Linked DNA regions of Homo sapiens. The protein of the gene in region 2 interacts with the protein of the main gene of each other region in a biochemical or structural test. Each region holds a gene or a part of one and is shown on either strand. Other genes may lie near its edges. The genes, in order: RARA, NCOA6, LAMTOR5 and THRA.

What was found.
Region 1: the proteins of NCOA6 (region 2) and RARA form a complex in vitro, tested with the Homo sapiens proteins (3 studies listed by BioGRID).
Region 3: the proteins of NCOA6 (region 2) and LAMTOR5 form a complex in vitro, tested with the Homo sapiens proteins (one study listed by BioGRID).
Region 4: the proteins of NCOA6 (region 2) and THRA form a complex in vitro, tested with the Homo sapiens proteins (2 studies listed by BioGRID).

Annotation. Positions count from the first base shown.
Region 1 is NC_000017.11:40,312,165-40,319,191, forward strand, and holds part of RARA (retinoic acid receptor alpha), read left to right. Parts: intron 1-3,028; exon of another isoform or gene 3,029-6,587; intron 6,588-7,027. UniProt on the Homo sapiens protein: Receptor for retinoic acid. Retinoic acid receptors bind as heterodimers to their target response elements in response to their ligands, all-trans or 9-cis retinoic acid, and regulate gene expression in various biological processes.
Region 2 is NC_000020.11:34,815,643-34,822,669, forward strand, and holds part of NCOA6 (nuclear receptor coactivator 6), read right to left. Parts: intron 5,998-7,027; exon of another isoform or gene 3,660-5,997; intron 1-3,659. UniProt on the Homo sapiens protein: Nuclear receptor coactivator that directly binds nuclear receptors and stimulates the transcriptional activities in a hormone-dependent fashion. Coactivates expression in an agonist- and AF2-dependent manner.
Region 3 is NC_000001.11:110,404,668-110,411,699, reverse strand, and holds the start of LAMTOR5 (ragulator complex protein LAMTOR5), read left to right. Parts: upstream 1-4,079; coding exon 4,080-4,114; intron 4,115-5,320; coding exon 5,321-5,382; intron 5,383-7,032. UniProt on the Homo sapiens protein: As part of the Ragulator complex it is involved in amino acid sensing and activation of mTORC1, a signaling complex promoting cell growth in response to growth factors, energy levels, and amino acids.
Region 4 is NC_000017.11:40,086,949-40,093,513, forward strand, and holds the end of THRA (thyroid hormone receptor alpha), read left to right. Parts: intron 1-1,293; coding exon 1,294-1,552; intron 1,553-2,257; coding exon 2,258-2,508; 3' UTR 2,509-6,054; downstream 6,055-6,565. Other genes in the region: NR1D1 (nuclear receptor subfamily 1 group D member 1), read right to left, coding at 6,135-6,334.

The DNA.
Region 1 (7,027 bases), on a different chromosome or scaffold from region 2:
CAGGCCCTGCCCTTTGGGTGCCCACAATGTGGTTGGCACTGATTTGTCAGAAATTGGGAAGGTTTCCCTCTAGACCGCTTGCCTCCTTTCTCCTCCTCCCGCAGGGTAGGGGCAGCTCTGTGATTGCAGGCACTTATGGGCAGGCCTCCCCCTAGGAAAGGGGTGTGGGATGCCCCCAGGATGGCCAAGTTGGCGCTAGCCCCAGGCTGGAGTGCTGGACATGATTCTGACCTGGGAGTTAGTGGGGGTAAGGCAGGGCATGGGCCTCCCTGCCCCCCTCATTTCCTGCTCTTTGGGCAGCTGTGGGCGAGAAAGGCTGCAGGGACTATTTTTAGTTGGTCAGTCCCCTGGCAGGAGGGACGTGCAGAAAAGCACGGGGCAGGCAGAGGGGCTGGCCAAGGTGAGGGTAAGCAGGCAGGCAGAGGAGTGAGGAAGGGCCAGAGGGGCAGAAGACAGCAAGGAGGCATGGGGAGCAGGGGCAGGACCTTACCCAGAGGGGCATGACCCAGGTAGATGGGCCGGGCTGGACTGGGTGGAAGAGTCCTGGCACCCTACAGGGTTTTCTTTATCCAGCTGGACTCAGAGCTGGAAGGGGTTTTAGAGGCTACCTAGGCAATCCCTTCCCCTTGCAGAGAAGGAAACTGAGGCCTAGAGAGAACACTCAATCAGTCATTGGCTGTGTTGAGACCTGAACCCAGGCCCTCCCTTTGCACCATTTTTCTGTTGTCATGGTTCCTCACCACAGCTCAGTGTGCTTCCCTTCCCTACTGCAGCAAGGAGGACCACGAGCCAGGCACACCTGGTCCATTTTCCCATCTGCTTTTTTGTGCAGGGTCTCTGAAAATCCCAGCTTGGTTTGTTTATAAGTCTCCATGTGGAAAGAGTCTGTGTCCAGGCTAGAAGGAGGTCAGAGTTGGGTTTGTTTGGGTGGCCTGTGGCCACTGGTGTGAATGGAGCTGCTGGACAGGCTCCAGCAGGCTCACAGGCTGGTGAGCTGTGGGGCTAGGAGACACCTTACAGAAGGGACGTCCAGACTCCCCAGAGCCCTTTGTGAGCCCTCCTCCTGCCCTGCCCAGGACCTGTGGGTCATGGTGGTTGTTTGCCCATCTCCCCAACAAAAGAAGGGAGCAGGGCTGAGGAGTGGGGAGATTACTACTGGCTTCTGATCGCTAGTCAGAAGGAGGCCCCCTCTGAGGCCTGGAGGCAGGGAAAGTTGGGGCAAGTTGGGGTGTGTATGGGGAGAAAACTCAATGGAGAATTGTGGTCCCTCAGAATTCAGTCTGCTTTCTGTCTTCTGCCTCAGGCTCTCCCCACAGGCCACCATGCTGCACAGCTGCAGGGGGAACCATTCCATAGACTATGATGTGAATGGCACCCCCTGGGGTTGTTCAAGGCCCTGCCTGTGTAGCCACACGTGGTGCATCTGTCTCCCACCTTCTTCCTTCAAATTAGTTCAGACCCACCTGGAAGGAGGTGTTCCAGACAGGCCTTAATCCAACACCCTCTCCCCTACCCTGCCTCATGCCACTCAACATCTCCTATTCCTCTGCTGCCCACCCCCAACGCACCAAGCAAGTCATGGTGCACCACCAATTGTGGTTCAGAAGCCCCTCCCCTTCTCTCTACGCAGTTTCTGTGTCTCTTGGGGGCTGATTTATCATACCCCCCATCAAGCCTACTGCAGTGTGTGAGAAATCAATAGTGCAAATGGATTGAGGCTGTTTAGCCTGTCAACTCTCCTTGGGCCCCACCAACTCTTCTGGGACTTGCGGAGTTGCTCAGTCCCCTTCTGGCTCAACATACACATATTTAGTGGTTGTAGCCAGAGCACTGAGCACAGGAATTATTCTTTCTGTTGGTCTCTGTCTCATTCTCTCTCATATACTAGGCTGGTCTTAACATGACAAATACTCTTGAACATTTATTTTCTAGCTTGGGTGGACGGGCTTAAAGGGCAGTAGGCTGCCAGCCAGAGGTAGGGAGGGAGGCAGGTGGGTGAGGGATATGGCGGGTGGAGGGGTGGGGTGGGGGTGGGGACGAGCTGGGGAAGGGATTGGGTGACAGCCCACCCCATCAGCTCTGGTAACTCAATCCCTGCACCCCACCCTCCCAATTTCCCTCCTGCTCAACAACTTCAGCAGCTGCTGGCAGAAGCAAGGCTGGCAGAAGTGTGTTTGAGTGCATGTGTATATGAGGGGAGAGGGTGAGAGGGGCTGTGGGGGCAGGGAGTGCTGCCAGGACATGTTAAAGGAGACTCACAGCCTGGGTACAACTTGGGTGGCAGGAGGAGGTGGGGCAGGTGGGAGAGTGGGTGGTGAGTGATGGGCAGGCTGCAGTGGGGGCAGGGCAGCACAGGGGTCTCACAAAACTTGTTGGCACTGGAGCGGGGCCTGGTGTGGTGGGGGTGGGCAGTGGTGAGGGGGCAGGGGCTGGCACAGACATTGCTGGCCCCAGAATGCTGAGGCCCATTCTTTGCCAGGGGGCGCATGTAACCATGGAGGGACAGTCTGCCCCTGTCTGCAATCCTTGGGCTGTGCCTGCTGGGCATCACAGTCTTGGTGGTGACTAAGTCACTTCTGTCCTGGGGCTGGCAAGGTGCCAGGCTCAGCTCTTCTCGGTAGGTGAGTCACTGCCCTGGCATCTCCCCCGGATGCAGCTGAGTCACCCAGCCATGCCTGCTAGGCAGGTGGGCACCAGGCTTGTGGTGGGGGTGGAGGGCTATGTGTGCAGCCCCCAGTGTCTTCTCTGATCTCTCTCTGGCATGTCCTGGCCCCACCCATAAACCTGCAGAGCCAGGCAAGGATGGCGCTTCTCCCTTGTGATCCACTAAGGGGTGAAGGAAAAGGTAGCAGGGCACAGAGTGGAGTCATACATGTTTGATTTGGAGTAAGTAGGGGAGGAAAGAGTTGAGGAGGGAACATTGATTGGGTTATATGTATATATATATATATATATATGCTTATATGTGTATATATATATATATATATATATATATATATATATATATACACACACACACACACACACACACGTATATATTTATTTATTTTAACAAAAAAGACACAGGGTCTTGCTATGTTGCCCAGACAGGTCTTGAACTCCTGGAGTCAAGCAACTCCTGGCGTCCCATCTTGGCCTCCCAAAGTGCTAGAATTAAAGGTGTGAGCCACCATACCTGGCCTGGGTTTGAATCCCAGCCCTGCCATTGACAAGCTGTATGACGTTGAGGAAGGCAATTTTCTTTTTGAGCCTCAGTTTTTTCATCTCTACAATGGCAACAGGAGCCTGCCCCTTCAGGACTGTGAGAATCAAATGGAGTGGGACTATTAAGGTACTTGTGGGAGGAGCTCCTTTTGGGATGAGCTAGGAGGCTTGGGAGGGGAAGAGGAGTCAGCTGGAGCTGGTTCCAACAAACTCCCGCACCATGGTCTTGGAGGGCCAATTGCTTCTCATCATCTCTTCGGAGTATCACTTAATGCTGTTCTTCAGGAGTTTCCACAGGCTGTGAGAAGACAGCCTTGTTGTACTAGAAGTGTGGGCCCTCCTAGGGTGTCTCAGAGCTATATTTTATCTCTTTTGACTACTGAGAACTGCCACTGGCCCTGGTACCTGTCCAGACTCTCTTCCTTCACTTCCTCTAGTTTGAAGAGGGATGGGGCTCAGACTCCTCCCCCAGCCTATCTCCTGTGTGCAGGGAAACAGTAGGCCCCAAGGAGTGTCCTTCTTAGAGTGAGGCGCCCCGAGCCTGTGGCTTTTCTCTCTCTGCTAGTTTCCTGCTGCTCCCTGGGTACCCTTCTCTCCTCCTGCATCAGAGTCCCTGGTGGGAGGGGGTGGTGGAAGCCCTGTTATGAGCCCAGCATAGCTGGAGTTCAACTGCTGCTGCAGATTGAAGACTCCTGGTCCCCCACCTGGGGACCTCTCCTGCCTTCTGCAGTCAAGCTTGGGTAGGGCTGGGCCTTGGACAGGTGGTACTGGTTTCCCTGGACAGGAAGGAAATGCCCCAAAGATGTGCATGCTTTGTGTTTGTACACACGGGTGCTGGTCTTGTTTGAGTGTCTGACCCCTGCGGGGGGTGGGTTTGTGTGTATGAATTTCTTCCCTCATCCACACATGGGGCTACTTCTGTGTCTGTGCAGAAGTGTGCCCCACCCTCTGCTTCATGCCCTTGTCTGTGCACAAATGTGTTTGGATGTACTTGTTCATGCGTGGATGTGCATACATGCGTCGGGGATGTACACATCCCTGCCCTGAATGTGCACGTGGAAATGCATTTGTACCAGGATGCCTGACCCTATGATGGCAGGTGTACCTGAAGGTCGTCCCACTTGGGAGGCAGTGTAGCTGTGTGCATGCATGCTTGCATTCTTGTGTCCATGAGCCTTCCCCTCCAGCCTCAAGGAAGGAAGACAGGTAGGATCTAGGTTGGGAGGTGTCCGTGGGCACTAGGGGCGGGCTGGCGCTGACTCCAGTCCTGGGCTGGTTCTCACCTGGGCAGAGCTCCCTGCTGTTGGCGGGGCTCAGGCTGGAAGGCCCTTGGGGGAGCGCGGCTGGGGGGTAAGGGGTTAAGCGGTGGCGTCCACATCTGGGAGCCATTGGCGCATTCCTGCCGGCTGAGCGCATGTTTGCGGATGAATCTGGACAGGACAGGGCGGGAGGGGCTGGGCGGGAGGTTCGCACCGGCGGACGGAAATCCAGACGGGAGCGGGAGACAGCTCCGGCCCAGCAGGCGGGAAGGGGCCTGGGGAAGCGCGGCCCAGCACTGCTGGGGCAGTTTCCCGTGCGCCGGCCCTCAGGGCAAAGGGTCCCGCCATCCTGGCTTGTCCTACCTTACCATGGCTCTTGGGCTAAAGCCAGGGACAATCAGATACTTCAATTCTAGACCCGGCTCTGCAACCGGTGCGACTGTGCACAAAACCCAGTGCCTGCTCTTGGACTCTCTTTCCTTGTTTGTAAAGCGGGGTCCGTCGGACCAGTGGGTTTGAGAGCTCTGCCACCGGGTCAGGCTGAGAGTCTCCTCACTGGGCTGGAGGCCTGGGAGTGCAGCACTTCCCCTTCCAGTGGGAAGTTCTGTGGGGGCACTTGTGGCCACTTCTCTGCCTGGGAACAGGGCGAGAGGGGAGTATTCTAAGCAATTCTGCTTCCCCCTAAGCCCGCCAGTGGACTGCTAGCGATGGGGACAGGATCCTCCCAAACAGAGCTGCAGGCTGGGAGGGGGGTCATGACTGTATTGGGGACTGGGGGTCTCTCAGATGGAGGGTGATTCAGATCCTGTCCAGCTGGAACATGAAAAAGAGCTTTCCTGGCTTCTCCAGACTTGTTCGGGAGAGAGAAGCTTGAGTGTGAGTCTTTGAGCACGGAGGGGTGCTCCTGGGCGCCCCTACTGGAAGATCCAAAAGTCTTGCCCTTTGAGGAGAAGAGTACTTTAAGGGGGCTGGGAGGGTTGGGTTGAGCCAGGGTTCCTAGGACCCACTGGAGCTGCAGAGGTGTTTGGGGAAAGAAGAGATATACTTGCGGGAGATCTACTCCTGGACTCTTTTTTTTTTTTTCTTTTTCTTGCAGCTGAGATAATTAAGATCCAGGGAAGGGAAGTGACTTGGTCAAGGTCACACAGCTCTCAGTTCCAGCTGGTCCCTAGAAGAGGATTATAATTATAGGATTCAGGGGCTTGACAGCTAGGGCAGGAGTCACCGCACTCACTTCCATATTACGCCGCCGCCTCACTTCTCAGATTTAGGTGTGGGTGTGTGTGTGGTTGGGGGGAAAGGAGTGTAGGATACCACACGCTGCGGTCTTCTCCACCGAGCGCTATTTTCATTCTTTCCGCAGAACCTCACCCCGTTCTTGCTCTGAATCTTCGGTTCTGGGTCTGAGGGAGGGATTCTCCCGGATTCCCACGGTCCAGTCTTCAACTAGGAGTGGCTCCTTTAAGACTCGCCCTTCCCGAGGTCTATTAAGGAGAGGCGGGGGCGGGCGTGAGCCTGTAGATCCGCCCCTGACTGGTGATTGGTCGGTGGGCGGGCAGGGGCGGGCCTGAGGGACAGGGCCTCCCCCTACCTCTGCTCCGTACCCTCCGCCCCTTCAGTCTGGGGCTCCGGGTAAAGTTTCAGCCTCCGCACGTGACTCGCTATGGCCGCTGCCATCGCCCCGCGCCCCTGAGCCGCGGCCCCCTGGACGGCTCCTCTCCCGGGACCCCGCACCCTGATGCCGAGCAGCACCAGGGCGCCGGGTTAGGGCAGACGCTGTGCTCGCTGGCACCCCGAACGGGTTGCTTCCCCCGCTGCGAGGTAATTCCTCCCCTGGGGATTTTGGGGAGCCCCTGGTTCCCGCAGGCGTCGGGGCCCCATGTCCTGCCCCAGATTGGTGCTGCGGGAGGGGACTGGGTACCGGGAGGCTTCCGACGGGAACCCGGGGTTTCCTGGGCTTCCCAACTCGCTGCCGCCGTGTCCAGGGTGGGGGAGCCCCGTCTGTGAGTCTGCCTGCGCCGTGTCTTCGCGCGCAGCCTTGAGGCGTCTGGGGCCGTCTGCTGCGCGTGTCCCCCGCGCTCGAGCTGTTGCAGAACCGCCGCTGGGAACTTCTGTTCTTTTTCTCTTTAATGATAAGCAAAACAAAAAGACTTGAATTCAAACCTGTTTGGGGAGAGATCGGATGCTCAACGGACTAGCCCCCTCTCTTTTTCCCTCCTGTTATCTGAGCTGCCCTGTGGTTTGGGGAGAATCAGCCAGGGGGCCCACTCCCACCAGAGGGAGCCGGCCGGGGGCCGGGCCGGTTCAGCTGGTGTCCCCCGTGGAGTGAGGGGAACCGTCAGAATTGGGTGCGGGAGCCAATGCAGTATGTGTGTAGGGGTGTTCCTGGGTCTTGTGCCACCATGGGGTGTGGGAACTTTTTGGGGTGAGGGGAAGACGGAATAGACTGACTTGTCGACTTTGCTCTGCTGAGGGTGTCTGGGACCTGGTGCCACCCACGAGGCTTGGAAGCTGCTGGCCAGATGTGTGTGTGAGCCTGTTGTGGGGTTGGGGGGACGGCTGGG
Region 2 (7,027 bases):
ATCCATGGGGAGGCTTTTGAATGGAGACCCTGAAAAGCTGATGTATCTCTCAATGCCCACAGATGACTCACCAAGAAGAGAGGGCTAACAAAACCCTCAAAGTTTGTTGTTTTACAGAAGAGAGATTTCTTTATTGTGCTGGCAAAAGTTACTGGCATAGGAAAATGAGGGAGGCTGGGTGTGTTGTCATTGACCATCTGTTTTTCTACAGGGTGTTTACTTATCCATGATCACCTGATCATATTAGAATGTCTCTAAAACTTGACTCAGTTACTCAAAGCTTGAATCAATTATCTACCATTTCAAAATTCCGCAGTGCCATCCTGCTCCCACACACTGGTCACTCAGCAACATTCAAATGTCTTAGACCTGGCATCCAGGGCCCCAAGAAAGTACGTCGGCTTCACTTCTCCACAACTCCTCAACAAACCAGCAAATCAGACTTCTCACTATTTCATTACCTAAATATTCCTTACATTTTCCTATGTCCATCATTCCTTTGGTTACTCTCTCCTTAATCCCATTTGTTGCAATCTTACCCTTCCATTTTAATAAATTTTAATTTAATGCCTCTATGTTATCTCAAACACTACCTGTTATGTGTTGACTTGTGCCCCCCAATCCCATCCCTGCCAAATATGTTAGTCTTAACTCTCAGTACCTCAGAATGTGACCTGATTTGGAAACAGAGTCGCTGCAGAGGTAATCAATTAAGATGAAGTTACTCCTACTGGAGTAGGGTGGGACCTACTAGTGACCTTATAAGGGAAATTTGGACACAGAGACATACAGGGAAAACGCCATGTGACAACAGAGGCAAAGATGGAGTGATGCAGCTACAAGCCAAGGAGCACCAAGAATTGATGGAAGGCTCAGCCTCTCAAGTAGGTGCGATTAGATGCACATGCCAGCACGCCTGGCTAATTTTTGTACTTTTAGTAGAGATGGGGTTTTACCATGTTGGCCAGGCTGGTCTCAAACTCCTGAACTCAAGTGATCCACCCACCTTGGCCTCCTAAAGTGTTGGGATTACAGGTATGAGCCAGCTATTTGGGAGGCTGAGGCAGGAGAATCACTTGAACCTGGGAGGCAGAGGTTGCAGTGAGCCAAGTTTGCACCACTGCACTCCAGCCTGGGCAAGGGAGTGAGATGCTGTCTCCAAAAACAAACAAACAAACAAACAAACAAAAAAGAGCAGCTGGGTGCAGTGGCTCACACCTGTAATCCCAGCACTTTGGGAGGCCGAGGCAGGTGGATCACCTAAGGTCAGGAGTTCGAGACCAGCCTGACCAATATGGTCAAACCCCATCTCTACTAAAACTACAAAAAAATTAGCTGGGCGTGGTGGCAGTTGCCTGTAGTCCCAGCTACTCAGGAGGTTGAGACAGGAGAATCACTTGAACCCAGGAGGCGGAGGTTGCAATGAGCCAAGATCTCACCACTGCACTCCAGCCTGGGCAACAGAGTGAGACTCCATCACACACACACACAAAAAAGCAAAAGCAAAAGCAAAAGAAAATGTATATAAATGGGTACTACGGAACTGATATTCAACAGATTCAATATCAGTAAAGGAGCTGATTAATGGGAACTTTTGTTGCCTTTGTGTGTGTGACGGAGGGGGAGGGGTTGCAGCTGGTTAATGCTAAATACAAACTGAAATATCTGTTTAAAGTATGAATGCCCTCTGAATTTGGTGCTCATTAATATTAACTGATATAGTTAATTTATTAACTGATAATGAATATTATAACTGACATAGAATACACAATTCATCACAAAGTAAAGGTATGGTCCTGGCCTTCTGCTTTATAGAGATTGTATATCAAATAAAGCATATGACCAACTCTAGGGCTGCATTCCTCCTTCCATCAAAGCCATAGTATTTCATTTGTGTATACATCTAAATGTAACTCTAGTTATTTACTAATTAACTCAGAATGTTTATTGAGCTCCTAGGCAGCTACTTTATGTCCTTTTTAGAATAAGGTGAGGTAGAAAAAGATCACATTTAAAAAAATAAATGAATATACCAGACATCAAAATAGGCAGACACTGGAGCTGAAGGGAGGGAAGGGGGAAGGCAGAGACAGACACCAGCCCAGTCCTAAAGGAGCACTCACCCAATCTAGTGAGAAGTAAGAGAGTAAACTAGCTCCATATCTCTCCTTTCTCCCCATGCTGATCCTACACTTCACAATCAGGCTTCCTTTCCTAACGTACAGCTTTCATCACATCACTGGCGAAAAACATTTGATGACTTCCCACTACCTAGTCAATCAAGTTCAAACTTCCCAGCTTGGAATAGAAATGGGTATTCAAAGCCTTCCATGATTTGATTATATGGTATGCAGAGATTAGGAAGGCAGGCTTTGAAATTAGACTACCTGGACTCAAATACTTTCTGTATCAATTGTTAGCTCTCTTCTTCATTTTATATGTAAAAAGGGATTAAAAACCAGTGCCTACCTCATCAGGTTGTTGTAAGGATTAAATAAAATGCTACTTATGAAATACTTAGCACATTATCTTGCAAATAGTAAGCATGCAAAAAATGTGAGCCATTGGCCAGGCATATGGCTTGTGCCTATAATCCTAGCAATTTGGGAGACCAAGGCAGGAGATCACTTGAGCCCAGGAATTAAAGACTGCAATGAGTTATAATCACGCCACTGCACTCCAGCCTGGGCAACAGAGTAAGACCCTGGTTCTATTTAAAAACAAAACAAAACAAAACAAAAAAACCCTACCCAAAGAACACTGGGGGGAAAGAAAAGCCACTACTACTATTAATTTTTTTAAGTTTTATTTATTTTAGGTTTTATCTATTATTGTTACTATTGTTCATCTCCATTTCCACCCTTAATTCCAACAACACCCTTATAACAATCCTCTTCTCCAAGCAAAGTGGACTCTTTACCATCTCCTAAATACCCACCTCTGTGTTTATGCTTTCACTCAGCCTGGAAAATACAGCACTGTCTCATCTCCAAGTATTAAGATACTAACTATTCTTGGCAGCTTCGTTCACAGACCACCTCTTTCAGGTACCATTCTCTAGTATCCCAGCTCCATAACACATTACAGACATTCCTCAGCATAGAAACCTTGGCTAGATTCATCTTGGTATCTTGCAGAGTTCTAGCCAGTTTCCAGAATACATGGTAGGGCTCAACAAATGTTTGAGAAAATAATACCTATATTTCCTTTCTCGTCCAACCACTCTCTTAGACAACAGCTCCACAATACAAGTAAAAAGAGTTCTTCTACAGTATTTCATAAAGCTGGCCAGCTAATTTTCTATCACCAATGTGGTAATTTCTAATACAGTACTTAATACATAGTAGATGCCTAAATATTCAAGGAGCTAAGCTGAATTTCACCTCATCTTTTAATTTCATTTATCATTCTATTCATTATGATCAAGTATGGCTCATCCTTAGAAATAGGTTTTAGTATTTACTTGCCCACAAACTCATCTGTCAATTTCTGGCCATCCCCCCCACCATCCCAATATGTCATTTACTGGTTTGGGGGAGACAATATTCAATACCTCAATAAAGTAAGAATCAGAAAATTAAATGTCTGCAGGGCCATAAAAATAAAGAGCAAAGCAAGACAGCAAGGCAGACTATGGAGAACTAGGAAACACATCTCACCTAAAAGTTTCAGCTGGTTACCGCTATAAATGAATATGGGCTTGCTGTTGACAGATCTTCCAATTTTTCAAGGTTAAGTCAGAAACTCAGAGGTCTGTGTACATTTTTAAGACATTAAAAATATTGTGTAAACCAAACAAAATACTTATACAGGTCAAATCCAACCACAGGTTGCCAGTTTGCAACCTCTGCTACAGAAGTTCTCTGCAAAAGTGATGGCGTGAGAAGAGTTCTATCCTAGCAGATAATCTAAGGCAGCCCCTAAAACTAAGTAGCTCCTTGGAAGCATCTCCTGCAACACTCAGCCCAACTCTCACCATTCTGATTGACCTGAAAACCAAATTAATTTGGCAATTTAATTGAGCAAAATGAGCCCCTGCTCTGTACCAGGTGCTGAGGAATCAGAAATGAACAGTAGTGCTAAAGTACAGCTAATATTTATTGAGCATGTTCTAGGTGCCAAGCACTGTTTTACACGTTATGTATATTGACTCATTTAATCCTCACAAAACCCTATGAGATTACTATTATCCTTAAAGACTGAGGCGCAATGAGGTTTTATTTGTCCAAGGTCACACAATCAGCAAGCAGCAGTGCTTAATAAGGACCTGAGACAGACTCCACCAAAAAGAGCTCACAATTTGAAAGCAAGCCCCATTCAATAAATGATGCTGGGATCACTGGTTATACATAGGGAAAAAAAATGAAACTGGACCCGACCTTACACTACACATAAGAATCCATTCCAGATACATTAAAGATCTAACCATTGAAAACAACAGTAGGTATTCCAGAATATAAAGAATAATTGCAGGCTGGGCACAGTAGCTCACACCTGTAATCCCAGCACTTTGTGGACTGCTTGAGCTCAGGAGTTCCAGACTAGCCTGGGCAACATGGCGAAACCCCGCCTCTACAAAAAATGCAAAAAGTAGCAGGGCATGGTGGCGCATGCCTGTGGTCTCAACTGGCATGGGAGGTGGGAGGGTTGCTTGAGCCCAGGAGGTTGAGGCTGCAGTGAGCCGAGATCGCACCACTGCACTCCAGCCTCGGTGACAGAGCGAGACCCTGCCTCAAAACAAAGAATAACTGCAAATCTTAAAGGAAAAGATTGATAAAGTTGATACTAAAATTCAGAACTTTTTAACAAATGACACCTTAAAACAGATGTTTTAAAATAAGCAACAGGCCAGGCGCAGTGGCTCACACCTGTAATCCCAGCACTTTAGGAGGCCAAGACGGGTGGATCACTTGAGGTCAGGAGTTTGAGACCAGCCTGGCCAACATGATGAAACCCCATCCCTACTAAAAACACAAAAATCAGCCAGGTGTGGTGGCACATGCCTGTAGTCCCAGCTACTTGGGAGGCTGAGGCAAGAGAATCACTTGAACCTGGGAGACGGAGGTTACAATGAGCTGAGATGGCACGACTGCACTCCAGCCTGGGCGACAGAGCAAGACTTCATCTCAAAAAAAAAAAAAAAAAAATTAAAATAAGCAAGAAACTGGGAAATGACATCTGTAATATCTACCAACAACAAAGGATTAATAATCAGAATATATAAATAAATCTTTTGTAAAAGACAACCCAATAAAAAAAATGGCAAAACAAGCCCGAGCATTATCTAATCCGTGTAAAGCTGGCACTACCACAGTTACCACACAGTACACTCCAGAACAATAGACCTTGCCATCACTGACTGATATAAATATTCAGGGGTCTGTGTTATGCTGCAGGTACACAGAGCATGGGTAATCCAGCCCAAAGGGCAGAGCCAAGACGTTTATTCATTCTCTATCATCATATAGACATTGGATGGCAAATTAGAGGTTGAACATCCAACACTCAAACACATAGATCAGGGGTTGGCAAATGTTTTTGTAAAGAGTATTTCCAGCTTTGTGAGCTGACACAACACATCTCTGTCACGACTACTCAACTCTGCTATTGGTACCACAAAAGAAGATATGGACAATATATAAATAAATGAGTGTGGCTATGTTCCAATAAAACGTTATTTACAAAAACAGATCGTGGGCCAGATTTGACCTATGGACCACAGTCTGTCGACCTCTGACATAGATAGTTGTGCTTTTTCTACACTATAGGTAGGACACTTCCCATGTTTTCCCCTGTCTTTTATGTCTGCTGACACCTCTGATTTCCTTAACCAAAAACTACACCACACTTGACAGCTTTGCAATGGTTTCCAAAACTCTATTACTCTGCCAAAAAAACCTTTTCGCCCTTATTATCAATGAGAATTCTCCCCTCATTTTCCTTTCACTTTTTTTTTTTTTTTTGAGACGGAGTCACGCTCTGTTGCCTGGGCTGGAGTGCAGTGGTGCGATCTCGGCTCACTGCAAGCTCCGCCTCCCGGGTTCACACCATTCTCCTGCCTCAGCCTCCCGAGTAGCTGCGACTACAGGCGCCCGCCACCACGCCCGGCTAATTTTTTGTATTTTTAGTAGAGATGGGGTTTCACCATGTTAGCCAGGATGGTCTCGATCTCCTGACCTCGTGATCCGCCCGCCTCGGCCTCCCAAAGTGCTGGGATTACAGGCGTGAGCCAACACGCCCAGACTTCCTTTCACTTTTTTAAACCTCTTTGACAGACACCACCCCAAACCAGAAATTTAAAAAACTCCCCCTAAGCCACTCACAATGTCAATAATCAACACCTGCAAATTCTAACTCCACTCAATGCCCACAGCCTCTGCCTTAGTTCAGATCCTCATTACTTCTAACTCTGCTCAGTGCCCACAGTCTCTGCCTTAGTTCAGATCCTCATTACTTCTAACTCTGCTCAGTGCCCACAGTCTCTGCCTTAGTTCAGATCCTCATTACCTCTCTGGTCTTCAGTCTACCCTCCTTCCAAAGAACATCCATTTATCTCCTAGAAATTAAACCTCCACCACATACTCCCCTTCTCGAAGATCTTGAATGCCTCTCTCAGCTAAGGATTCAGTCCAAACTCCTTAGCAAGGTCCTTCACAACCAGGTTCCTAACATGGTCTTCCTAGTCTCATCTCTGGCCATGCTTTCACACACATTCTATGCTCCAGCCACATTCAGTTATTAATACATTCCCTGAAAACGTGTCTTTACCTGAAAGGCCCTTCTCTCCATTTCACTGGCAAATTCCTGTATCTTTTAGGACACATCTCAAATGTCACCCCTTCGCAACACCTTCCCTGATTCTTTGAGCAGACACACCCATCTCCGTGTCCTTATAGCGTTTAATAACTCTTCTTTGGCATCGACCATCCTGAACTATGATTGTTCACATGTCTACTTCACTCATGGGGCTGCATACCCAAAGTGAAGTGACTCTGCCTTAAAAACTTCTGAAGCTACAGAGCCCAGT
Region 3 (7,032 bases), on a different chromosome or scaffold from region 2:
CCCACAAGCTAAAGAAAGTAGAAAACAAGGGTCAGATACTTTCCCCAACCATCACTCCAGCCCCTAGCACTTGCCCAATTTATATATACTATTCCTCTCCCATTGCCTACTTGCACAGGGGCAAGACAGCAGCAGGGCAGAGAAAGCGGGGGTGGTAAGGAGTAGCCTGCTCTCTCACCTCCCATGTGGCAAGGACATGTGAGCCAGCTATCATCCTCTTCCTACTTGATTTCCCTTCAAAGGCCTTCCTTATAGCTTAAAAAGCAATCGCCAGTCTTTCGGAGAATCCTTTTTTTTTTTTGAGACAGGGTCTCATTCTGTCACCCAGGCTGGAGTGCAGTTGTGCAATCTCAGCTCACTGCAGCCTCAACCTCCCGGGCTCAAGTGATCCTCCCACCTCACACAAAGTACTTGAGACCACAGGTGCGCATCACCATGCCCAGCTAATTTTTGTGCTTTGGTAGAGACAGGGTCTCCCCACGTTGGCTAGGCTGGTCTCAAACTCCTGGGCTCAAGCCATCCGCCCACCTAGGCCTCCCAAAGTGCGGGGATTACAGGCGTAAACCACCATACCAGGCCTGAAAACTACCATGCCTGGCCTGAGAATCCTTTAATCACTGATCTAGCTTTGAGATAATTTGAGATATCCTTGGGCTACACTGGCCAATACTGTGGCCACTAGCCACAGGTGGCTGCTGAGCACTTGAAATGCGGCTGGTCTGAATTGAAATGTGCTGCTAACTGAAAAATATACCCTGGATTTTGAAGACAGTACTGGAGAAAAAATATAAAATATCTCATTAGTATTTTATCAATCACAAGTTGAAATAATATTTTGAATATATTGTTTGAATAAATAAAATGTTATTAAAATTAGTTTCATCTGTTTTACTTTTTTTTGAGACAGTCTCACACTGTAGCACAGCCTGGAGTGCTGTGGCTCAATCTCGGCTCACTGCAACCTCCAGCTCCCGAGTTCAAACGATCCTCCTGCCTCAGCCTCCTGAGTAGCTGGGACTACAGGCACGCACCATCACACCCAGCTAATTTTTGTATTTTTAGTAGAGATGGGGTTTCGCCATGTTGGCCAGGCTGGTCTCAAACTCCTGACCTCAACTGATCCACCCATCTCGGCCTCCCAAAGTGCTAGGATTACAGGCGTGAGCCACTGCACCCTGCCCTGTTTTACTTTTTTTTTTTTTTTTTTTTTTTTTTTGAGACAGAGTCTCGCTCTGTCGCCCAGGCTGGAGTGCAGTGGCGCGATCTCGGCTCACTGCAAGCTCCGCCTCCCAGGCTCACACCATTCTCCTGCCTCAGCCTCCTGAGTAGCTGGGACCACAGGCGCCCACCACCACACCCGGAGAATTTTTTGTATTTTTAGTGGAGACAGGGTTTCACCGTGTTAGCCAGGATGGTCTCAATCTCCTGACCTCGTGATCCACCCGCCTCGGCCTCCCAAAGTGCTGGGATTACAGGCGTGAGCCACCGCGCCCGGCTGTTTTACTTTTTTTAATGTGGCCACTAGACTATATTGCCCAGGCTGGACTTGAACTCCTGGGCTCAAGGGATCCTCCTGCCTCAGCCTCCTGAGTAGCTGGGATTATAGGCACGTGCCATTTCACCAGGCAGTACTTATGTTTTCTAATGCTAAGTTTTAAACTGCTTTTTCTAAAACTTATATGGCCTGTACTGTGTTACCCCTAACTTAACATGAATAATTTCTCTAGAGCAGGAGTCCAAGACCCCTGAATTATAACATTCAAACTGGAATTTTGGCTGGGTGCAATGGCTCATGCCTATAATCCCAGCACTTTGGGAGGCTGAGGTGGGCGGATCGCTTGAGGTCAGGAGTTTGAGACCAGCCTGGCCAACATGGTGAAACCCCATCTCTACTAAAAGCACAAAAATTAGCCACGTGTGGTGGTGCATGCCTGTAATCCCAGCTACTCGGGAGGCTGAGGCAGAAGAATCGCTTGAACCAGGAGGCAGAGGTTGCAGTGAGCTGAGACGGCGCCACTGCACTCCAGCCTGGGCGATAGAGCAAGACTCTGTCTCAAAAAAATAAAGAAATAAACAAACTGGAATTTCAAGGAAGCTGCAAGCTTCACTATGACAGCTGCGGAATAAAAAGGGACTCTGAATGCCAGTGCAGTGTATTGGACTTTGGTTCAATACCAAAGTCTGGTATCTTCCGATCTGGGAGCTGGGCCCCAGATTGGAAGGTAGGCTGTGAGTAAAAAGCTGGAGGTGACAGAGTTGGAAGAAACTTAGTGCAAGGAATGATCCACAGAGGGGGTGAGGCTTACCAATTTGAGTAAATTAGCACCACTTTTTCGGGAGGCAATTTGTAAGTATGTATCAAGAGTCTTAAAAAATGATCATGTCCTTTAACCCAGTCATTCCATTTCTAGTAACTTATAAGGAAATTTTAAAACTGCACAGATATTTAGCTATGAGGATATTCAACCAGCATTGTAATAGCTAAAACAAAAAACAAACAAAAGCAAAAAAAAAAAAAAAAGTCCAAGTACAGTGGCTCACCTGCAATCTCAGCGCTTTGGGAAGCCAACGAGGGAGGGTCACTTGAGACTGGGCTACACACTGAGACTCCATCTCTACAATTTTTTTTTTAATTAGCTAGGTGGGGTGGCGGGTCCCTGTAGTCCCAGCTTCTTGGGAGGCTGAGGTGGGAAGATCGCTTGAACCTAGAAGGCTGAGGCTGGACTAAGCCATGATAGTGCCACTGCACTCCAACCTTAATCCACAATTAAGATACAGCTATAAAATGGAATATTTTGCAACTACTACAAAGGATGTAAGTGAAAACTTGACATGGAAAGACATTTATTCTAAACTCTGTAAAGAAGGCCAGCTACAGAATTGTACCTCCAGTATGTATGTCAATTTTGCTTACAAAACAAACAAAACAAAAAAAACCATGCTAGGCGTGGTGACTCAGCCTGTAATCACATTTTGGGAGGCTGGAGTGGGAGGATCTGTTGAAGCAAGGAGTTTAAGACCAGCCTGGACAACACAGCGAGACCCCCATCTCTACAAAAAAACGTAAAAATTAGCCAGACATGATGGCTCGAGGCTGTGGTCCTAGCCAGTCGAGAGGCTGAGAGGTGAGGATAGCTTGAACCCAGGACGTCCGGGTTGCAATGAGCTATAATCGTTCTACTGCACTACAGCCTGGGTAACAGAGCAAGACCCTGTCCCCCAAAAAATTTATTTTAAAAAGGCAAACGAAAAAACATTAAAAGTATACATTTACAAAGACAACTATCTGAAAGGATATTCTCCAAGAAGTTAAAAGTCGTCTTTGGACAGTGGGGCCATAGATGTTTTCCTATTTTTACCAGCTTTATAATTAATTTTTAAAAGTTATTTTCAAGTAGTCCTACCCAGTCTTCCTTACGAGTTAGGACTCAAATGCCACTCTCTTCCCCTAAACTGTCCTGAGTCCCCTCACCATAATAAGCACCAATGTCTTCGTTAAAATCCCGACACTGCCAACACTCAGCTAGGGGGTTGAACCTTGCTCCATCTCGTCCTTTAGTCTCTGTGTGCGTCTTTCCCCCTACAAGCCTACTGACCCCCTCCAAGAGGTCCCGTGTCTTCCCCGTACTTGCCCCACAGGCTAGATCAGACCCTGTCTGACCCCTGGGTTATTGTAAAACTTAAGATCTGTCCCCTAGGTCTCGGAGTCGGTTGAACTAGGGTCCAAAGGTTAAAAAACACTGACACAAAATGCCAGGCCACGAACTGAAGCACTGAGGCCCGGCTGCAGACCTCTCCCGAGAGGGGAATAATCCGTGCCGGCCGGTTCCGCCATGGAGCCAGGTGCAGGTCACCTCGACGGTCACCGCGCGGGGAGCCCAAGCCTTCGTCAGGCTCTGTGCGACGGAAGCGCAGTGATGTTTTCCAGTAAAGAACGCGGACGTTGCACCGTGATCAATTTTGTCCCTTTGGAGGCGCCGTTACGGTCCACGCCCCGCTCGCGTCAAGTGACTGAGGCCTGTGGTGGAGAAGGACGTGCCGTGCCGCTGGGTTCTGAGCCGGAGTGGTCGGTGGGTGGGATGGAGGCGACCTTGGAGCAGCACTTGGAAGACACGTGAGTAGTGCGCGCCTCTTCGGCCTGTCCTGAGGTCGCGGCGGAGGAACTTGAGCGGAACGAAAGGCGCGAGCTGCGAGTACCGGCCAGGGCGTCTCGGGGACGTCGCGCGACCCCCGGGACACGGGATGAGGGGGCTAAACTCTACCCAAGGCCGCAGGGCGGGGCGGGTGACCCGGAATTAAAATCCTGCCGGGCACCGCACATTCCCTCTTGAGCGAGTCTCCCGGGCCCAGGCCACGGGCCAAAACTGCCTATCTCGTTGTTGAAATCGTCTTTACGGTCAGGGTGGTTCTGCGGAAGTTTTAGAAAACGGGTTGACTTTTGGGAAGATTGTGCCAGTTGTGCAGTGTCGAGCCCTGCAGTGTAAACAAACACGTATCTCCTGTGTGTAACCTATCAGTTACTTGGTGCTTAAGTAGATAAAAATCATTCTTTAAATTTTTCGAACAAGCAGTATCTATGTAAAATTCAAAACTGGAAAAGTGTAAAGGGTACAGAGAGACACCTGCCTCCCACCGATGTCCCTCAGCTTCCACTTACCCTCCAGGAGGTAACTTGAGTTTTTCAACAGTTGTTTTAAATGAGTTAGTACTAAAACATGCGTTTTTAACAAGAGTGAAAACATCCTAGATGTTTTTCACGCAGTGTTTGTGGCCCTCCAGAACTCAGCAGTACTTAGCACATTTTTTTCTCTCATCAGAGAGAAACTGGTTTATTTCAATTAATTAACTAGAACTTAAATTTTTTGTGTTCTTTTTTTGAGACGGAATTTCGCTCGTCTTCCAGGCTGGAGTGCAATGGCGTGATCTCGGCTCACTGCAACCTCCGCCTCCCAGGTTCAAGCGATTCTCTTGCCTCAGCCTCCCGAGTAGCTGGGATTACAGTCATGCGCCACCACGCCTGGCTAATTTTGTATTTTTAGTAGAGACGGGGTTTCTCCATGTTGGTCAGGCTGGTCTTGAACTCCCGACCTCAGGTGATCCGCCCACCTGGGCCTCCCAAAGTGCTGGGATTACAGGCGTGAGCAACCGCGCCCGGCCCTAGAACTTAATTTTTTTCTTAGGGTGTGACAATGAAAAAAGATTGAGAAATATTGATTTAAAGCACTTAATGCCTGGTACATAGAACACCTGTATGTTTGTACTTATTTAAATCCTTTTTCTCCCATTATGTACTTCAACTCTCTTGTGTTCCTGGAATTAGAATGAAGAATCCCTCCATTGTTGGAGTCCTGTGCACAGATTCACAAGGACTTAATCTGGGTTGTAAGTATCTCTCATACCAACTATTTGATGAATTGCATAGCATCTGATGTTGACTTGGAGCCTAGCGTGCTATTATTTTCTAGCTTTTATTTCCTGTTACCTTGCCAGGTCTTTCTGAGTTTGAGAGTAGAGATTATCTCCAAATAACAGTATCAGAAAATTGAAACTTTTCAGTTGGTATTTATGAAGGAAGATGTTCCTTGCAGTCCTATAACAATAAATAGTTGTCTCTACTAAAAATAATATTTGAATCATTTTAAATTGAGTCTAGAAAGGACTTCAGATAATAACAGCTGTTAACCATTTATTGAATGTATGCCATATGCTGAGACTGCTAGGCTCTAAATACATTATCTTTAATTTTCACAACAACCCGGCAAGGTGGGTGGTGTACAATTTTGAAGCTCAACTACACTAAACAAGAAGTGAATAGGCAGTAAAATGGGATTTCAGTGTTGGACATACCTGGTCTCAATCCCTTGCTCTTTCATTTGTTAGTAGTGTGAACGTGGACCAAAAAACTACCTTTTAGGCCCTCATTTTCTTCACTGGGTTGTTATTTGATAATGGTAATAATCATAGAATTATATTTATTGAGCTGTTATGTGCCAAGCACCATTGTAAGTGCTTTACATATACTCTTTTATTCCTCATAACAACCCAGTGAGGTAGAAAAAGAAATTGAGGGACCAGGTGCAGTGTCTCACGCCTGTAATCCCAGCACTTTGGGAGACCAAGGTGGGCAGATCACTTGAGCCCAGGAGTTCAAGACCAGCCTGTGCAACACAGTGAGACCCCCCATCTCTATTTTTACAATAAACATATATATATGTTTTTAAAATTTAAAAAAAGAGGCCGGATGCGGTGGCTCACACCTGTGATCCCAGCACTTTGGGAGGCGGAGGCGGGTGGATCACCTGAGGTCAGGAGTTCGAGACTAGCCTGGCCAACATGGTGAAACCACATCTCTACTAAAAATGCAAAAAAAAATTAGCCAGGCATGGTAGCAGGTGCTAGTAATCCCAGCTACTCGGGAGGCTGAGGCAGGAGAATCGCTTGAACCTGGGAGGCAGAGGTTGCAGTAAGCCGAGATTGCACCATTGCACTCCAGCCTGGATGACAAGAGCGAGACTCTGTCTCAAAAAATAAAAAAAGAAACTGAGACACAGAGGTTAAATAACTTGCCTGAGGTCATGCAGCTAGTAAGTCGTTAAGCTAGGATTTTTGTCTGGCCCTGAGGCCTCTTAATCACTTTTTTTTTTTTTTTTTTGAGACGAAATCTTGCTCTGTCGCCCAGGCTAGAGTGCAGTGGCACGATCTTGGCTCACTGCAACCTCCATTTCCCAGGTTCAGGCAATTCTCCTGCCTCAGCCTCCTGAGTAGCTGGGATTACAGGCGCCTGCCACCACGCCCAGATAATTTTTGTATTTTTAGTAGATACAGGGTTTCACTATGTTGGCCAGGCTGGTCTCGAACTCCTTATCTCAGGTGATCCACCCACCTCCGCCTCCCAAAGTGCGGGATTACAGGAATGAGCCACTACACCCGGCCTAATCACGATATTTTAAGGTTATATAATATGTATAAAATGCTTACATAGAACTGAGACATAATACTTAATAAATGGTAGCAATTACACATGAGGAAATA
Region 4 (6,565 bases), on a different chromosome or scaffold from region 2:
AAGGAGCAATTCCTGTAGGTCAACATACACAGATAACATACACAGACACACACACACACATGCATACACATACACCCAGCACACAGGCACACATGCAGACACATACACGGACACACACACACACCTAGCATACAGATACGTACACAGACACACATACACACACACATACACCCAGCACACAGACACACACACACCTAGTACACAAACACACACACAGATACATAGAAACACACACAGACATATACACCCAGCACACAGACACACACACACACACAGACACACACCCAGCACACAGGCACACACACACACACACCTAGCACACAGCCACACAGATACATAGACACACACACACAGATACAGACACACACACACACACAGACATATACACCTAGCACACAGACACACAGATACATAGACACACACCTAGCACACAGACACACACACACAGACACACCCAGCACACAGGCACACACACACACACACACCTAGCAGACACACACATAGATACATACAGACACACACACAAACACACAGGCACACACACACAGCATACAGACACACGCCAAGGTCTGGCTGCTCTAAGAAATCAGCCGGCTCCAAGTGCTCCCCTCCACAGCCCCTCATCCTTCAAGTCTATGCGGCCACCCAACTCCAGGCAGCCTGAAAGTTCTCATTTTCCAGAGCACTAGTGCTGGAGACAGGCTGCCCTACTAGCCATGTGACCTGGGGTAAGTTACCTCCATCCCCTGTGCCTCAGTGTTCCCATCTGGAGTGGGCTGGGGATAATGATGGGTGCTAACTCACAGGCATAATTTTTTTTTCTTTTTTGAGACAGATTTTCGTTCTGTCACCCAGGCTGGAGTGCAGTGACGCGATCTGGGCTCACTGCAACCTCCGCCTCCTGAGTTCAAGCAATTCTCCTGCCTTAGCCTCCTGAGTAGCTGGGACTACAGGCATGTGCCACCACGCCCAACTAATTTTGTATTTTTAGTAGAGATGGGTTTCACCATGTATGTTGGCCAGGCTGGTCTCGAACTCCTGACCTCAAGTGATCCACCCGCCTTGGCCTCCCATAGTGCTGGCATTATAGTCGTGAGCCACTGCGCCGGGCCTCACAGGCATAACTGTGAGGCTTAAATGGAATAGGGCATGCACATGGCCCAATACAAGGTCAGCCGTTCAGAGTCCATGGGGGCCTTGCGGGCCTCACGGCTCCCGTAGGACACTCTAGGGGAGACTCAAGGACGCGGGGAGGGGTATGCTGAGTGCTCCTGTGGCCCTGCCGCTCCACAGCTGCCTTGCGAAGACCAGATCATCCTCCTGAAGGGGTGCTGCATGGAGATCATGTCCCTGCGGGCGGCTGTCCGCTACGACCCTGAGAGCGACACCCTGACGCTGAGTGGGGAGATGGCTGTCAAGCGGGAGCAGCTCAAGAATGGCGGCCTGGGCGTAGTCTCCGACGCCATCTTTGAACTGGGCAAGTCACTCTCTGCCTTTAACCTGGATGACACGGAAGTGGCTCTGCTGCAGGCTGTGCTGCTAATGTCAACAGGTACCTGCTGATTAGTCGGGAGGGCTCAGAAGCTTCCAGGGGTCCCAGAGATTGGCTGGACCCTGGGCCTGTTGCTCAACTCCCTCCTGAATCTTCTTCTGGGCTACCTCTCTGTCACCTGGGCCATCCCCTATCCCCTGTTCCTTGCTCTGTCACACACTTCTCACTCGTTCCCCAGGCCCATCCCTTGCCTCCCCATCCCTGCTCTGTGCCTTTTCCTGTCTTTGTCTCCTTCCTTCTCGCTGCCCTGTCCCTCTGTCACTCACATTCCCCTTTGTTCCCCACTCCCCACTTTGTTCTCAGCCACCTTCCATCCCCTCATCCCTCCTCTGTCTCCCAGTCCCATCTCTTACCCCTCAGTCCCCTCCCTAACCCCATCTGCACCCCGCCTCTCTGACCACCAACCTCAGTCCTCCCCACTCCAAGGCTCCTCTCTCTCCCCCAGCCCCCGGCCTGTCCCTCTGTCCTCCTTGCATTGCCCCCTCCCCCCAGTACCCCCCTGCCCCTCTCCACTTCCCAGCTGCCTCCCTCTCCCTGTGCTTCTCCTGTCCACGTCTCTCAGGGGGAGCTTCTCCCCTCCCCTCCCCCAGCCTCTCTGCCTCTATCTCCCCTCTAGTCCTTTCTTCCCACGTCCCCACACCTCACCCTCCCCATCTCCAGGCCTTCGGCCAGCCCCTCGCCCCTCACGCCCCTCTTCCCTCACAGACCGCTCGGGCCTGCTGTGTGTGGACAAGATCGAGAAGAGTCAGGAGGCGTACCTGCTGGCGTTCGAGCACTACGTCAACCACCGCAAACACAACATTCCGCACTTCTGGCCCAAGCTGCTGATGAAGGTGACTGACCTCCGCATGATCGGGGCCTGCCACGCCAGCCGCTTCCTCCACATGAAAGTCGAGTGCCCCACCGAACTCTTCCCCCCACTCTTCCTCGAGGTCTTTGAGGATCAGGAAGTCTAAAGCCTCAGGCGGCCAGAGGGTGTGCGGAGCTGGTGGGGAGGAGCCTGGAGAGAAGGGGCAGAGCTGGGGGCTGAGGGAGACCCCCCCACACCCCTTCTCTCCTTCCTCTCGTCCTTGGATAGATTCAGCTCCCACACACACACCCGCACTGCCCAGGTCCCTCCTCAGACCTCCAGCCCTGGGACAGGGCAAACAACTGAACTTGCTATGGAAAGGACAGTGTGGGAGGCTGGGGGAGCTGTGTCCTGCAGTTCCCAGGACCCCATCCTCTCAGAAGGTAGGGGAAGGGCGGGAGGATTGAGAAGGGACAAGCCACCTTGACCGTAGGGGAAGGAGGAATGTGGGCTGGGGGAAGATGCCCTCAACTCACCCCCTACACACACATGAGAGAGAGCCCCCACCCAGTTCCTTGGCCTAGGTCTCCCCTCCAGGCTGAGGGCCTCTCTACTTCCCCAGATGCCTGGGTGCAAAGAACGGCTTGGCTTGGCTCCTCCTCTGGAGGTTAAAATTTATAGTCATTCTAACTGCACTTTGGAAACCAAGCAAGGGGAGAAGACAAATGAAGAAAAACTAGACAGAGAGAAAAATACAAAAAAGAGAGAGCGAGCGATAGAGAGAGATGATATTAAGTTATTAACTGAGGCTGACCAGAGGGGAGGACCCCCCCTTTACCACCCCATGCACTTTGCGAGCTGCCCCTTCTTCCCCCACATCAGAGAGAAATGCCCCCACACCAGAGCCCCAAGGGTAGGGCTGCCGATCAGAGCTGTGAGTTAACACAACAGGGTCCTGGCCACCCCCCTTGCCATACCCCGCCCTCTGTGCCCCTTTGGCACCCCCCAACCCTAGTATGTCCTCTGCTTTCTGCCACTCGTGCCCGCTGAGTTCCATCTACCTCTCATGCTGGATGCCAGCTGGCCCCTCACCAGCCTGCCCTGCTGCCCACACAGCTCCCCTTTAAGTGCCCAGCCCTAGGGGCCTCTCCCCATCCACCTCCTCCTTCCACACCTTGGCACCCACCCAGGAAAAAACTGTGGCTCCAACTCCTACCCTCCTTATATCCTGCAGTATTAGCTAGAAACCGGATGCTGCTGCATTGGTTGGGTCGGGGGTAGGAGGGCTGTGCGTGAGCGTCTCCCAGAACCCTCCACCCCTTTAGCACTCTGTTTCCCTGTTTCCCATCTGTCTTCTGGGCTCTCTCTAACCTCTGCCCTCCTCCCCAGCTCCTACTCACTGCACTAACTCTGGGCGGGCAGGTACCAGAATGGGGGTGTTTAGATAAGTGACACTTAGTTGGGGCCCCAGGGGAGGGGTGGTCGGTGCTCCTTTTTCTTTAAAGCTCTTTTGGCCAGCTGCCCCTCTGCCCCGGGACCCCTTCCCCTCTTCTTTTCTCTAATTCAGGGACTTTGGCTTGAGCCCCTCTCGCCCTCCTGGTGAGGGTGCTCTGTTGGTCTGCACTTGGGTGAGCTGTCCTCCTCCCCCTCCCTGTGGCTGCCGCCCACTCCTCAGGGGAGAGAGGGAGAGAGGAGGTGGTCCTCCCATGGGAGCAGGAGGTGGGGTGGGACAGAGCAGACCAGAGGGTGCTGGGCTCAGGGCTGCATGTCGGCAGGGATGGATGGGTGGACACAGATGCCCCCGGAAGCCATGGGGATTGGGGCAGGGGGTGGGGGGAGGGGTGCCAGGGCTTCCTGCGCTTTGCACTATTGGGGCAAAAATGTCTTAAGCAGTGGGGAACCTGCCACCCCACCCTGACCCTCAGCCTGCCACAGCCCCCTACACACACACACACACACACACACACACACACACACACACGGACATGCACACACGGACATGGGAAGGCAATGCTATGCTGCCCGTCAGGGCACTGTCCTTCCCCAATCGTTCAGGTGTTCCAACAGGGGTGGAGGGCCTGGAGGAGCACCCGCTGTCACCTGTGCATGTGCCTGTCCCACCCTGCTGGGGCCTCGGGCTGCCCGCGCTGTCTTTGTCTCTATCCTCTCTCTCTCTCCTGGAGTACTGAATCCTGTATTACTCCAGTCCCATGGGTAGGCCCTCTTGTACCTTCCTACCACGCCTGGGGGCCCAGTGGAATTCCTGACCTGTCTGCTGTCTTCCCCATCCCTCCATCCCCACCCCAACCCCTCCATCCCCATTCTCAGCCATGGACACGGCAGAGAAAAGGCCTTGAAGAGCCTTAGCCTCTTATAGGCACTTGGGACTCCCCCACCCTCCCCAATCATATGAGCTGTGATCCCATCCTCCCCGGACCCCTCCCTTCCCCCTCGGTGATGTGGGGTGTATGTGTGCGTTCCTCTGCGTGAATGTGTGAGTGAGTACACATGGTAGGGGAGGAGCCAGGGCGACTCAGGAGTGCCACGCACCTGCTCTAGAGCGGCAGCTGTCCCAGTCCCTGCTGTGGAAGTGGGGGACAGGGCCCTCTCCTGGGGGCCATTGGTGCTAATGAGGGGGATGGCCTTGATGTGGGTGCTCAGCATGCCTCCCCCAGTATTGGCCCGGGGCACTAGGGCAGGCAGGGTGGAGCAGCAGGTGCAGTATCGGTGGGAGGACGGGTTGCTGGGAATAGGACGAGGGGGCCAGGCCAGGACAAGGGGTTGCCAGAGCCATGACCACTACCCCGCCCCCACCACCCGCCTCTCCATCTCAGTATTGCCCCTCCCATCACTCATAACACACATACCTCATCCAGCCTCCTCCCTGCTCAGACTTGGGGAGGGTGGGGGAGGAGCCCCTACCCCTTCTCCTGGTGGCGGGTCTGCAGGGCTGGGAGAGGGCAGGGCGTTGTGAGAGAGAGACCGTCCATAAGGAGGACAGTAACTCCTGCCCTGGGAACTCCTGGGCGGGGGGGAGGGGGACACTGCCCAGAGGCGCTACTGAATGTATGAGAAGCTGGTGCTGGGCTGGGGGGAGGGGGGTTGTGGCCAGAAACAGGGAAGGAGGTAGGTCTCTTCCCCAGGGAGGGGTGGGACCGGCAGGGGTGACTTGAGGGGCTCCTACTCCTGCCCCACGTTGACAATCAGTATGTCTGTTATGTGCGATTTTTCACCCCGTTGTGTTTTGGGTCAGGATTTTAAAGAAAGATATTTTTATGGTAATTGTTGCTCGTCTATTTTACTATATATTTATGTAATAAATATATGATGAAAATAACCCCCTTGGGCACCCCCCTTAGACTTGTGTGCTGTTTCCCTATATCCTCCCATCTGCTGGCAGAGTACCCACCCCACAAACTGACCAGATGGAGAGGTGGCCCCCCCCAGCCTTGGCAGTATTTCCACCCCACCCCCCAAACGAGCACACACCACAGAAGCCAGCTCAGCTGTGAACTATTGGATTTGAGACAGGAACAGAACAAATCAGAGGGCCAGGGGAGGGTTGTGGGGGAGACAGAGTGGTTTAAATAGGGGAGGAGGGGAAGTTCGGTGATGGGGGAGGGAGGCAGGTATTTACAAGAAGGCTCAGGGGGCCAGAGGCTCATCTTGGAATATTTTATAACAATATAAATAAGATTCTGGTTTGCTTTTCCTTTTCGTCTCGTAAAGGAGAGAGAAGTGCAGAGTTCGATTCTGTACAAGGGGGCAGCGGCAGAAGGCCGGCCGGGCGGGTCACTGGGCGTCCACCCGGAAGGACAGCAGCTTCTCGGAATGCATGTTGTTCAGGGTCCGCAGGTCCGGCAGCTTGAGCAGCAGCTTGGTGAAGCGGGAAGTCTCCAAGGGCCGGTTCTTCAGCACCAGAGCCCGAAGAGCCCGCAGCAGCGTCTCCTGGAGCTGCTCCACCGAAGCGGAATTCTCCATGCCCGAGCGGTCTGTGGGGAAGACGACAGCAGTGAGGCGGACTCCCCGAGCTCCTCTGAGGAGGAACCGGAGGTCTGCGAGGACCTGGCAGGCAATGCAGCCTCTCCCTGAAGCCCCCCAGAAGGCCGATGGGGAAGGAGAAGGAGTGCCATACCTTCTCCCAGGCCTCTGCCCCAAGAGCAGGAGGTGCCTGAAAGCTGGGAGCGTGGGCTCAGCAGGGCTGGTCACCTCCCATCCCGTAA